2 separate regions of the Homo sapiens genome follow, and region 2 is linked to region 1. The links come from fine-mapping of genetic effects on gene expression. A gene starts in region 1. The other region holds a variant in brackets. All regions are shown on one strand. Distances are from middle to middle.

Evidence for each region.
Region 2: its variant is fine-mapped to the expression of NCKAP5L in whole blood (TOPMed, PIP 0.97).

Annotation. Positions count from the first base shown.
Region 1 is chr12:49,826,042-49,831,410 of GRCh38, reverse strand. NCKAP5L (NCK associated protein 5 like) reads left to right here and starts at 2,998. Exons shown (of 13, transcript NM_001037806.4): 1 at 2,998-3,089. It overlaps BCDIN3D-AS1 (BCDIN3D antisense RNA 1), which reads right to left and starts at 2,868. Exons shown (of 3, transcript NR_027501.1): 1 at 2,667-2,868; 2 at 2,328-2,476. RefSeq lists enhancers at 1,967-2,545, 2,546-3,124, 3,540-3,589, 4,733-5,369 and a silencer at 2,870-3,279.
Region 2 is chr12:49,787,327-49,792,692 of GRCh38, reverse strand. NCKAP5L (NCK associated protein 5 like) reads left to right here. Exons shown (of 13, transcript NM_001037806.4): 11 at 1-15; 12 at 105-247; 13 at 642-1,541. The coding sequence ends at 854. Among named protein-coding and RNA genes, the nearest start is that of NCKAP5L, 38 kb to the left of the region's middle. RefSeq lists an enhancer at 1,104-1,946. The variant A/G (reference allele first, on the strand shown) is at 2,184.

The DNA.
Region 1 (5,369 bases):
GTCAGTGAGGATGAAGGTTTGTGAAGCATAGAGAATCTGCCAAAATCTGAATGCTGAAATTATCAAGTGCACAATAGCCTTTAAGGAAGGAGAGAGCCAGGTACTTGCTCTGACAAATACAGATGTTCTGGCTGTTTATTAAACAAGAGTAAACATCTAAATGAAAAGTAAAATATTGGCTGGGCACAGAGGCTCACACCTGTAATCCCAGCACTTTGGGAGGCTGAAGTGGGCAGATCACTTGAGGTCAGGAGTTCAAGACCAGCCTGGACAACTTGGTGAAACCTCATTTCTACTAAAAATACAAAAATTAGCTGGGTGTGGTGGCGCACGCCTGTAATCTCAGCTACTTGGGAGGGTGAGGCAGGAGAATTGCTTGAGAATTGCAAGAGGCAAGAGAATTGCCTCTTGGAAGGCAGACCTTGCAGTGAGCCGAGATTGTGCTGCTACACTCCAGTCTGGGTGACAGAGCAAGACTCTGTCTCAAAAAAAAAAAAAAAAAAAAGGAAAGTAAATTATCATCTTGATGTTCTGTTTACTTCCAATAATTCAGTTATTTGGAAACATCCAAAAGTAGTTAGAAATGCCTGGCAGACTTTTAAGGTTTTCTACCTCAAGGCAGAATTAGGAATACAAGGCAATATTAGGAATACAACAGGTACATGGAGTTTTATTGGACTTTCAAGCCCTTTGAGGAAAGGACCATGTCTACTTTTTGTTGTAATCCCAGAACTAGCCCACTGATCCCTATTCAATGTTAGATGATTGAATAAGAATTCACAATGCTGTAGGCTTCCGAAGATGCCACTATCATCAAGAAATAAGGTGAAAAGGAGAAATGAAAACATGTCTATGAAAATATTTGCACCAGAATGTTAATAGCAGCCATATTCATCATAACCCCAACTGGAAATACCCAAATATCCATCAATTGAAGAATGGATAAACACATTGTGATATATTCATGCAATGGAATAATACTCAGCAATAAAAAAGAACAGATTACTGATACACATGGATGGATCTCAAAAACATTACTAAGCTAAAGGATACAGACACAAGTACATACTGTAAAGCTCCATATATGTGAAATACAAATGCAGACAAATCTATGGTGCTATAATTCAGGAAGTTGCCAGGGGAGGGTGGTGGTGGGTGTGGGGTGATCAACTATAAAGGGGCATGAGGGAACTTTATAGGGTGGTGGTTCAGTATCTTGTTTTGGGTGTTAATTACATAGGTGTATATTTTGAAATTCACCAAACAAAGCACCTAAGATGTGTGCATTTTATTGCACGTTAAGAATAATTTAAGGGCCGGGCATGGTGGCTCACATCTATAATCCTAGCACTTTGGGAGGCCGAGGTGGGCAAATCACCTGAGGTCAGGAGTTCGAGACCAGCCTGGCCAACATGGTGAAGCCTCCGTCTCTACTAAAAATACAAAAATTAGCCAGGTGTGGTGGTGCACTCTTATAATACCAGCTACTTGGGAGGCTGAGGCAGGAGAATCACCTGAAATCAGGAGGTGGAGGTTGCAGTGAGCAGAGATTGTGCCACTGCACTCCGTCCAACCTGGGACAGAGTGAGACTCCATCTCAGAGAAAAGAAAAGAATAAAATATTTTTTAAGCAAAAAAATGAGAAAGCTGGTGGGGGTACCCATCAAGACATCTTTTAGGTTCCAGTAATAGCTGTCCTTGGGCACTCTTTTCATCAAACTACCTCTATGCTCAAGAACCCAAAATGACTTCTTTATCTTATGTCTTGTCACATCCATATCCTTATTCTGCTCTCCTCCATAAGAAACCTCCTCCATTAATTTCTCCCACTTCCCAACGTACCACGGTGATCTGCTCACGGTCCCACGCAGATAATTTGCTCTTTCCTATCTGAATCTCCTTGTGGCCTTTACCCTGCCTGGACCCTACTCAAGCTCTCTCTGCCCTTCAAATTCCGTATTTAAATAAACCTCCTTCAGAAAAGAACTCTTAATCCTAGCCAATCTGAGCACCCTAACTTGCCTTACTTTTTATGTTCCTTTATTGGACTAATATGATACTCTAAGCTGCATCCTTTGTATACTCGCAACAAAAGAAATTTTAATGAAGTAGGCGGAGACTGTACCTAGGGATTCCTTCGTATTTCCCTGCAGAACCCAGGTGAGAACCTACATTTCTGGGGCAGTCACTACAATGCAGGCTGTGAGGGTTATACGGTATTTAGGCAAGGGCAAATAGGTGTTTAATTAAGGACTAATGGGAATGATATTGAAGCTCTGAGGCTCTGCAGGGGCCTGGATGGGCTGTTTGCTTTTCCTCATCCTCACCGAGATAGCAAGTGGTTGAGAACAAGGTTGCATCCTTTTTCTGCCCAGCCTTCCCCGCAAACCAGTGAGGAAACGACCAGCACTGCCGTCTGATGAGAGGAGCCTGTTGCTGTAACTGTTTTCCAGATTACTGGGGGGACGACCCCATCCTGGAGAAGGAAGAGAGAGGCGGGAGCATTTAAGGCCAAAGAGGCACTCAAGCCTTTCCCCCATGGATTTACACCCAACACGTATGCAGAAAAGCAAATTACAAACACCGACGCTCACAACCACACATACACGTGCACGCCCAGCCCCACAGAAGCAAACGCGCATGCCTGTGGGCCCGCGCGCACCTACTTAGTTTTCTCTGTTCTAGACGCCCTCATTCCACCCCCGCTCGGCCCAGCCCGGCGTCCTCTACCCAGGCACGGCTGAGGTTTACCAAGCCCGGCCCGGCCTGGAGAAAGTGTTTCTATAAGGGGGAAGGGAGGTCCTTCCCACCAAAGCGGAAGCGGCGCGCGCCGGCCGGGCAGACTTAGCTCGCGTCCTGGGAACATCTGGAGGGGGCTGGGAGGGGCGCGCATCCAGGCTGAACGTGGATTGGCTGCTAGGGAGGAGGGAGGCGGGGTCAGGGCCAGGGGCGGGGCTCCCCGGCCCCTTTAAAGCCTTGACATCAGGAGGCGGCTCCGGCACCCCCCTTTCTCTGCCCCCCGCCCCCAAGCCGCGGCCATGGACCTGGCGGATCCGGCCTGCCCTGGCCCAGCTCAACACCTGATTTCGGTGAGTTCTGGGTCTACTTGGGATTGAAAGGGCGGCGAGTGCGGGGGGGCGATCTGTAGCTCCGGGCCGGGGGGAGTGGGGTGTGGAGGGTAAGGCTCTCGTGGCAGTACAGAGTCGGAGAGGGCGTCGCGGCTTCCTGCCCAAACCCTGCTGCCCGCCCCTCCGTCCCTCCCTCCAGCCGCACCCTCCTCGGGGGTCCGGCTGCGACTCTGTGCACCCCCACCCCACCCCCTCCCGCCCCCCGCGCCATCCTCGCGCACACTCCGTGGCCCCGGAAGGGAAACTTTCGGGAGTGGGGGATGTTCCGGGGGCCGGGCTCCCCTCCCTCTTTGAAAGCACTGACCTTGCCCCAGCTGCTCACCCCACCCAACCCGCATCCCACCGTCCGGGTGCCGCTTAGCGGTGCCGGGTTATTGCGGGGGGAGGGGCTCTCTCCCCAAAGCGCAGGCGCGGAGACGAGCCTGGGGCTCCCTTTCGCACTCCTTCCCATTCCCCGTGGCCTGGGGCGGTAGGGCCTGGGGAAGGCGGGGAGAGGCGGAAAGACCGGGTCTCCTAGAGAACAGCCCCTTCAAAGGCTTTGAGGGGCTGCGGGAAGGAGGAAGGACCTGGTGGGCTGCACGCTGAAGAGAAGCTAAGGGAGGGAGAAGGGTTGGTTGGGCAGGGAGCAGGGACAGGGCAGCGTCTGCAGAAAAGGCCCTCTGGGTGCTGGCTGCGGTGCCAGAAGAATGCAGAGAATTCATCTGTGCCCGACGCTTCCCTGGCTTAGCCCAACTAAGAAAGCGGCTGCCCGGATCCTAGCTCCCCTCTCCCTGTCCTGGGCCCAAGGTCCCGCGTTATCTCCAGTCCTGGCACGGCCCCAAGGGCACAGAGGGCCCTCACCTCCCACAGGCCTGGTTTTCCAGGCATCCCAGGGCTGGATCAGCTGAGTCCACTTAGTCTGTCCAGCTGCTACTTCTTAAAGGCCTGCCTTGCTGAGGAGCTGGGGGTCTTGGGCTAAGGAGTTCTCTGGCTGTAGAGGCAATCCCTCCCTCCCACTTCTCCGCGTCTGTCATGGGTCCTCCTTCTTAAGCACAATGGTCAGCCAGAGGAAGTGGCCCGGGCAGGGGTGGCCTGGGGAGCAGTAGAAAGAGTGTCAATGCCTTACCGTTTTGTGGTCAGTACTTTCGGGGAAAATGAACATAGCCCATTTGCCTTGTTGCAGACCCTCCCTTGCAGACATTACGCCATCTGGCTCTCTGAGACTCCTTGTGTGATAGGAAAATTCACTTCTCAAATTGGTCCCCCCATCTTCCTAAAAACAACCTGGGATTAGTGGGTTTCCTATCCCAAAGAAACCGTGTGTATTCCTTTCCGGGGAGATATTCCCATGTTCAAGCTTGTTTTCAAAGTCTATGGTCTGTGCATGAGGTGGCTTTGTCCCTCCAGCATCTTTCTCCAGCTCTGGCCCTCACGAAGAGAGTGAGGACCTGGAGGGGCAGGTGCTGTGGTTGGCAGGGAAGAAGGATCTTCATGATAGGCCGGTGAAGACCTAAGTGTTTGGGGAGCAAGCGGGTATCAATAAAGACAGAGTCAGAAGCTCTGGTCCCTACTTTTCCTAGCTTGCTGTATGACCTTGGCCAAGACAGTTTGCTCTCTGGGGCTCAGTTTCCCCATCTTTAAATGTCAGTAGTTGGACTAGATAGCTCTAATATTCCCTTCCACTTTTTGACATTGAATGGTTCCACTGATGGGTGAATCTATAGGGGAGAAAGGTCCTCTGGCAGAATGGTTCCATTTAGAGGGAGCTAAAGTGTTGGGTGTGCTTTAAATTGCAATTAGTTAGGATTAGAACCCTGGGTAGAGAGAACAGATTCCCTTATTCTAAGCCTGAGAGTAGACCTTGTCCCACACACCCCTGGTGCCTTGGGATATGAACTCCTGCTCCTGCTGGCTTGGGTTTGGCCCACCCATCACGCCTGTGGTGAGACATCCTGGCCCTTTGAAGAGGAGCTGAGAGAGGAGGAGGCAGCCAAGGGCCAGCAGGGTAAGCAGATTCCCAGGAGACAGTTTACGTCTCAGCTGTTGGGACTTGTTTTAGGATCTGGGCCAGGGAGCACAACATACTCACCCACCCGCCCTCTTATAGGAGGAGGGCAAGGAGGGCCCCACTGCTTTTGCCCATCCCACCCCCAGCCCTGCCCACCTCACTGCTGTACTCACACCCCCAGGTCCCAGGCAAGGGGCTAAGGATTCTTCCCCACCGCCCTCATCCAGCCCAGCCAGCCTCCCAGGCCCTGCTAT
Region 2 (5,366 bases), 39 kb after region 1:
AGACCTGTCCTGATGGTGAGTGTCCAGGTGGGAGGGTGGGATGCCCCTGGGCATCCTGGAGCTGCCCAGGCAGCTCCATCCACCTTCCCTTTGTTCCTGGACAGATCCCTGTGAAGACCCAGGCCCCACCCCTCCTGTCCAGCTGGCCAAGAACTGGACCTTCCCCAATACTAGGGCAGCCGGCAGCTCCTCGGACCCTCTCATGTGCCCACCCCGACAACTGGAGGGGCTGCCCAGGACCCCCATGGTGAGAATTGCAGCAGAGGAAAGGGAAAGGACTCGGGAGCAGGAGGGAGTGATGTGGGGAGACCAGTTTCTCCAGTAAGGTACGGCCTGTGTGTCGCACAGTCTCAGTGCTGCACCCTCTGGGAGGAGGACCCCTGGGATGCCCTGTGAGCGGCCCTCCCCACTGCCCTCCTTGCACTTCTCTCGTGGGGAAAGGTTTCTGTCCCTCCCCAGAACCTTGTAGGACTGTTCTCAGTTGTACCTCCAGCCTGTTTCCTCTGAAGTATACCCCACCTTGGGCCCCCTCTGGAGCAGCCCCCCATCAGGTGCACAGACGCCCCTCAGAGCTCAGTGCCTCTGAGGCTGGGCCGAAAGGTGGAGAGGAGCTTCCTCCCGAGCTGCCCCTCCTTTCCCAGGCCCTGCCCGTGGACCGGAAGCGAAGCCAGGAGCCCAGCCGCCCGTCCCCTACGCCCCAGGGCCCACCTTTCGGGGGTAGCCGCACCCCCAGCACTTCGGACATGGCCGAGGAAGGCAGAGTGGCCAGCGGGGGCCCCCCAGGGCTGGAGACCTCGGAGTCTCTCAGTGACTCACTCTACGACTCGCTGTCCTCTTGTGGGAGTCAGGGCTGAGGGGCTGCGCCACGCCACGGCCCCGCTGGAGCTGGGGACCACAGACTGGACCGGCTCTCTTCATGCCCAGCCCCCGGAGACGGGGACCCCTCCCTGAAGGGACCAAGGAGGCAGGTGGATAAGAAGGTGAAAAGGGGGTCCCTGGCACACCCCACCACCCACTGCTTCGGCGGATGAGATGACCGTGCTCAGCTCAGGGAGAGACCCCGCCCTTGGTCCCTTCTCTCACCCAGAGTAAGGCTCTTCCTGGAAGGGACTGGGGGTTAAAGGCCACTGTGTCGCAGCCCTCCAGTCCCTACTTCAGGCTGAGCCATCTTGTGGTGCTGGGCTTCCTGCCCACCAGCCGTGCCATCTCTGCCCAACCCGGCTGCTCCTCTGCCCCGAAGCCCTCGCGAGGCCCTCCTGGAGGCCCCCGTGCTGGTGGAGTTTGGGGGCCAGGGGGACAAGTTGCCTTCTCTCTCTGCCCTGGTCCTCCCTGCTGTCTGGATGGTGCTGCCCTCCTCTGCCCCATGCCTTTGGGGTCTGTTCGTCCGTCTTTTTTGTTGTTGTTTTTATATATTGAAGCGCCTGGCCCAGCCCCCAGCCCCCAGCCCCGCACTGCGGTTAATTTATGTGTTGTTTAAAATGCGGCTGCTCTGCTTCCTGCCTCTGCTTCTGCCGTATCCCTAATAAAATGTGGAGGCCCCCTCCCTGCCCCTGAGTCGGCTTGTTGTGTGGGAGGACTCAGGCAGGCCAGGTCGGGGGACACTGCATGGGTGCCAGGTTGAGGGACCCCAGGCCCCCTTGTGACACAGCCCCCTCACCAGGGCAACTGGCTGGAGTCATCCCAGAAGGTAACTGAGGGTTGGGAGAGTAGGGCCTGCTTAGGCCCGGAAGGGTATCTGGGCTCGGAGAGATTCTCCTGGGCCAGGGCTTGGGCACGGCGCGAGGCTGGGTGGCCCCTTGGAGAGGGAGCTGGGGAAGATGGCTGTGGACATGCACTCAGGCCCCACGTGTCCCAGGCTGGGGGGGACATGCAGACTCTGAGTAGAGTTGCATCTCTTCTCCAGACCTTGGTTTTCCTCCTCTATAGAAGATTAGAAAGTTAATCCAGACGAGCTGGTCCCATCAGCCAGACTTTCTTCTCAGCATTCTCCTCTTCCTACCCCTTCCCCAATTCTCTTCCTACCCCTTCTTAGTTAATATCATCATTGAAGAAATTAACAAGACGGAGAGTGTCAAGTCAGATGTCTGGGTTTTTTTTTTTTTTTTTAAGTCAGTATCCCATTTTCTTACCTCTTGTCTTCTACTTCCAGATTCCTATCCCACTGTCCTATCTTTTCTGCTTTT[A/G]TGGGCTTAAGCATAATATTACCAAGCTGTAAATCTGCTTCTTGCCAGGTGGGCTTCAAGAGGTCTACCTCCTTCCCACTTTTTATTTCTTGGTTTTTCAAGCCCTCTTCTCTGCTTGAACTTGGTAGATTACCTCATTTCCTAGTTAGAACAGAATTGTTTGCCTGCAGGATATTTCTCCTATTTCCTTCTGGGGAAGGAGTTTGGCATAGTAGGTTTGATGCAGGACTCCACCTCTTTCAAGCTGAGACCAGAGGGTCCATCCGCATTCTTACCACCAGGGTCTGATCCATCTGCCTAGGCTTTATTCTCTGGTGTTTGCAAATACAAGGCGTCACCTTGGTTTCCAGGGCAATGTGGGCTGACTGACCAAGGCAGGGCAGGTGGCATCAGTCACACCTGACGCCTGGAGGCAGCCATTGCCTACCAACTGTTCCATGGTGGGAAACTTCCTAAATCCCCCAGCATTCTGCTAAGAGACCCTGGATCCAGATGAGCCACCCCACAGCCTACATAATTGTGTGCCCTTCACACAGACCCAGTATTTTATCTAAAATGATTCTGTGGAGGAGGACATGCAGTTGAGTTTAAAGACACTCCTGGGGAATCAATTTCTTGCACTTCAAAGAAAGGTTAGGCTAAAAGACCATTTGATCCTTACTAAGGCAGAACACTTCATATCTCAGTTTGCAACATCTTCCTGCAGAATTCAGGTAAATTCACTGTTTTCTCCAAGAATAATAGGTGAATGTTTGCCTTTGCAATGTGCAAGACCCATTCTGCTGGATTTTCCAAACAAAGGAAGACAAAACTGCCAGGCCACCTCCCCCATCCCCCAAAATGGCATCAAGGCATCAGCAAAAGATTATGACAAGGCTTCAGGTTCAACTTCACTGGGCACTTTGCCTTTTGCAGGAAATGTCCCAAAAACATTAACTCAAGTTTTCTCTGGGTAGCCAGTGGGTTTTTTTTTCCTTCTTTACCCTTTTGTAGATTTCTACAAATAGTGTGCTTTGTTTTCTTTAAAAAAAAAATTTTTTTTTGTAGAGATGGGGTCTCACTATGTTGCCCAGGCTGGTCTCAAACTCCTGGCCTCTCCAAGTTCTGGGATTACAGGTGTGAGCCACTGCATCCAACCTGTTTTGTTTTCTTTATCAAAAAAAGTTTTAAGGCCGGGTGCAGTGGCTCACGCCTGTAATCCCAGCACTTTGGGAGGCTGAGGTGGGTGGATCACGAGGTCAGGAGATCTATACCATCCTGGTTAACACAGTGAAACCCTGTCTCTACTAAAAATACAAAAAACTAGCCAGGCGTGGTGGCACGCGCCTGTAGTCCCAGTTACTCCAGAGGCTGAGGCAGAAGAATTGCTTGAACCCAGGAGGCGGGCCTTGCAGTGAGCCAAGATCGCGCCACTGCACTCCAGCCTGGGCGACAGAGTGAGACTCCGTCTCAAAAAAAAAAAAGTTAAAAAAAATTTTTTCCCGAGACTATAGAAATGCTCACCTGTATTAACTTCAAATTCATGTGGCCTTAAGTAATTTATTTATATGCTTGAACTAACTCACACAGGATTACAGAATGAGGGTATATATCTAGAGTTTGCTGCAGAGAATAATTGTTTCTCGTTTAAAACTTTTTTTTTTATTTTTTTGAGACGGAGTCTCTCTCTGTCACCCAGGCAGGACTACAGGCTCCTGCCACCACACCCGGCTAATTTTTTGTATTTTTAGCAGAGGTGGAGTTTCACCATCTTAGCCAGAATGGTCTCAATCTCCTGACCTCGTGATCTGCCCACCTCGGCCTCCCAAAGTGCTGGGATTACAGGTGTGAACCACCGTGTCTGGCCCCTTAAAAGGTTTTTAATTGTTAAAGGAATAGAAATTATAGAAGTATATGTTCCCCAGGCACAATGGCTCATGCATGTAATCCCAGCACTTTAGGAGGCCGAGGCGGGTGGATCACCTGAGGTCAGGAGTTCGAAACCAGCCTGACCAACATGGAGAAACCCCATCTCTACTAAAAAATACAAAATTAGCCAGGCGTGATGGCACATGCCTGGAATCCCAGCTATTCGGGAGGCTGAAGCAGGAGAATCACTTGAACTTGGGAGGCGGAGGTTGCAGTGAGCCAAGATTGCACCATTGCCCTCCAGACTGGGCAACAAAAGCAAAACTCTGTCTCAAAAAAAAAAAAAAGAGTATATGTTCATGGTTTTTAAAAAAAGGAATTGAAATTGAATGTTATAACTAATTATCAGGGAAATGCAAATCAAAACTGCAATGAAATACCACCTCACTCTAGTTAGAATAGCTCTTATCAAAAAGACAAAAGAAAACAAGTGTTGGTGAGGATGTAGAGAAAATAGAACCCTTACACACTGTTGGTGGGAATGTAAATTAGTACCTCTATTAAGGAAAACTGTGGAGGTTCCTCAAAAAATTAAAAGTAGAGCACTATATGATCCAGCAATCCCACCAGTGGGTAAATGGAGGTATCTGTACTCCCTTGTTTATTGCAGCACTGTTCACAATAGCCAAGAATTGAAGTCAACCTAAATGCCAGCAATGGATGAATGGATAAAATGTGGTATATCTACACAGTGGAATACTATTCAGCAATGAAAAAGAATGATATCCTGTCATTTGAAACAAATTATTTGAACCTGAACATTATGTTAAGTGAAATAAGTCAGACACAAAAAGACAAATACCACATGTTCTCACTGATACGTGGAATCTTAAAAAAAAGAAAAAGAAAAAGCCGATCTTATGGAAGTATAGAGCAGATCAGTGGTTACCAGAGGTTGCAGAGCCAGTGGAGGAGAGGAGGTTGAGGAGAGGTTGTTTGGAGGTACAAAACTAGATAGGAGGAATAAGTTCTGGTGTTCTATTGCACAGTAGAGTGACAATGGTTAACAAGAAAGTATGGTATATTATTAACAAAATAGAAGAGAGGGTTTTGAATGTTCTCACCACAAAAAAATTACAAATTCATAATGAGATGGCTGTCCTAAATACCCTGATTTGATCACTATACAATGTATCCATGTATGCAAAAACATCACATTGTACCCCATAAGTACATACAATTATAAAGTGTCAGAAATTGAAAAGAGGCCGGTGAGGTGGCTCACGCCTGTAATCCTAGCACTTTGGGAGGCTGAGGCAGGTGGATCACGAGGTC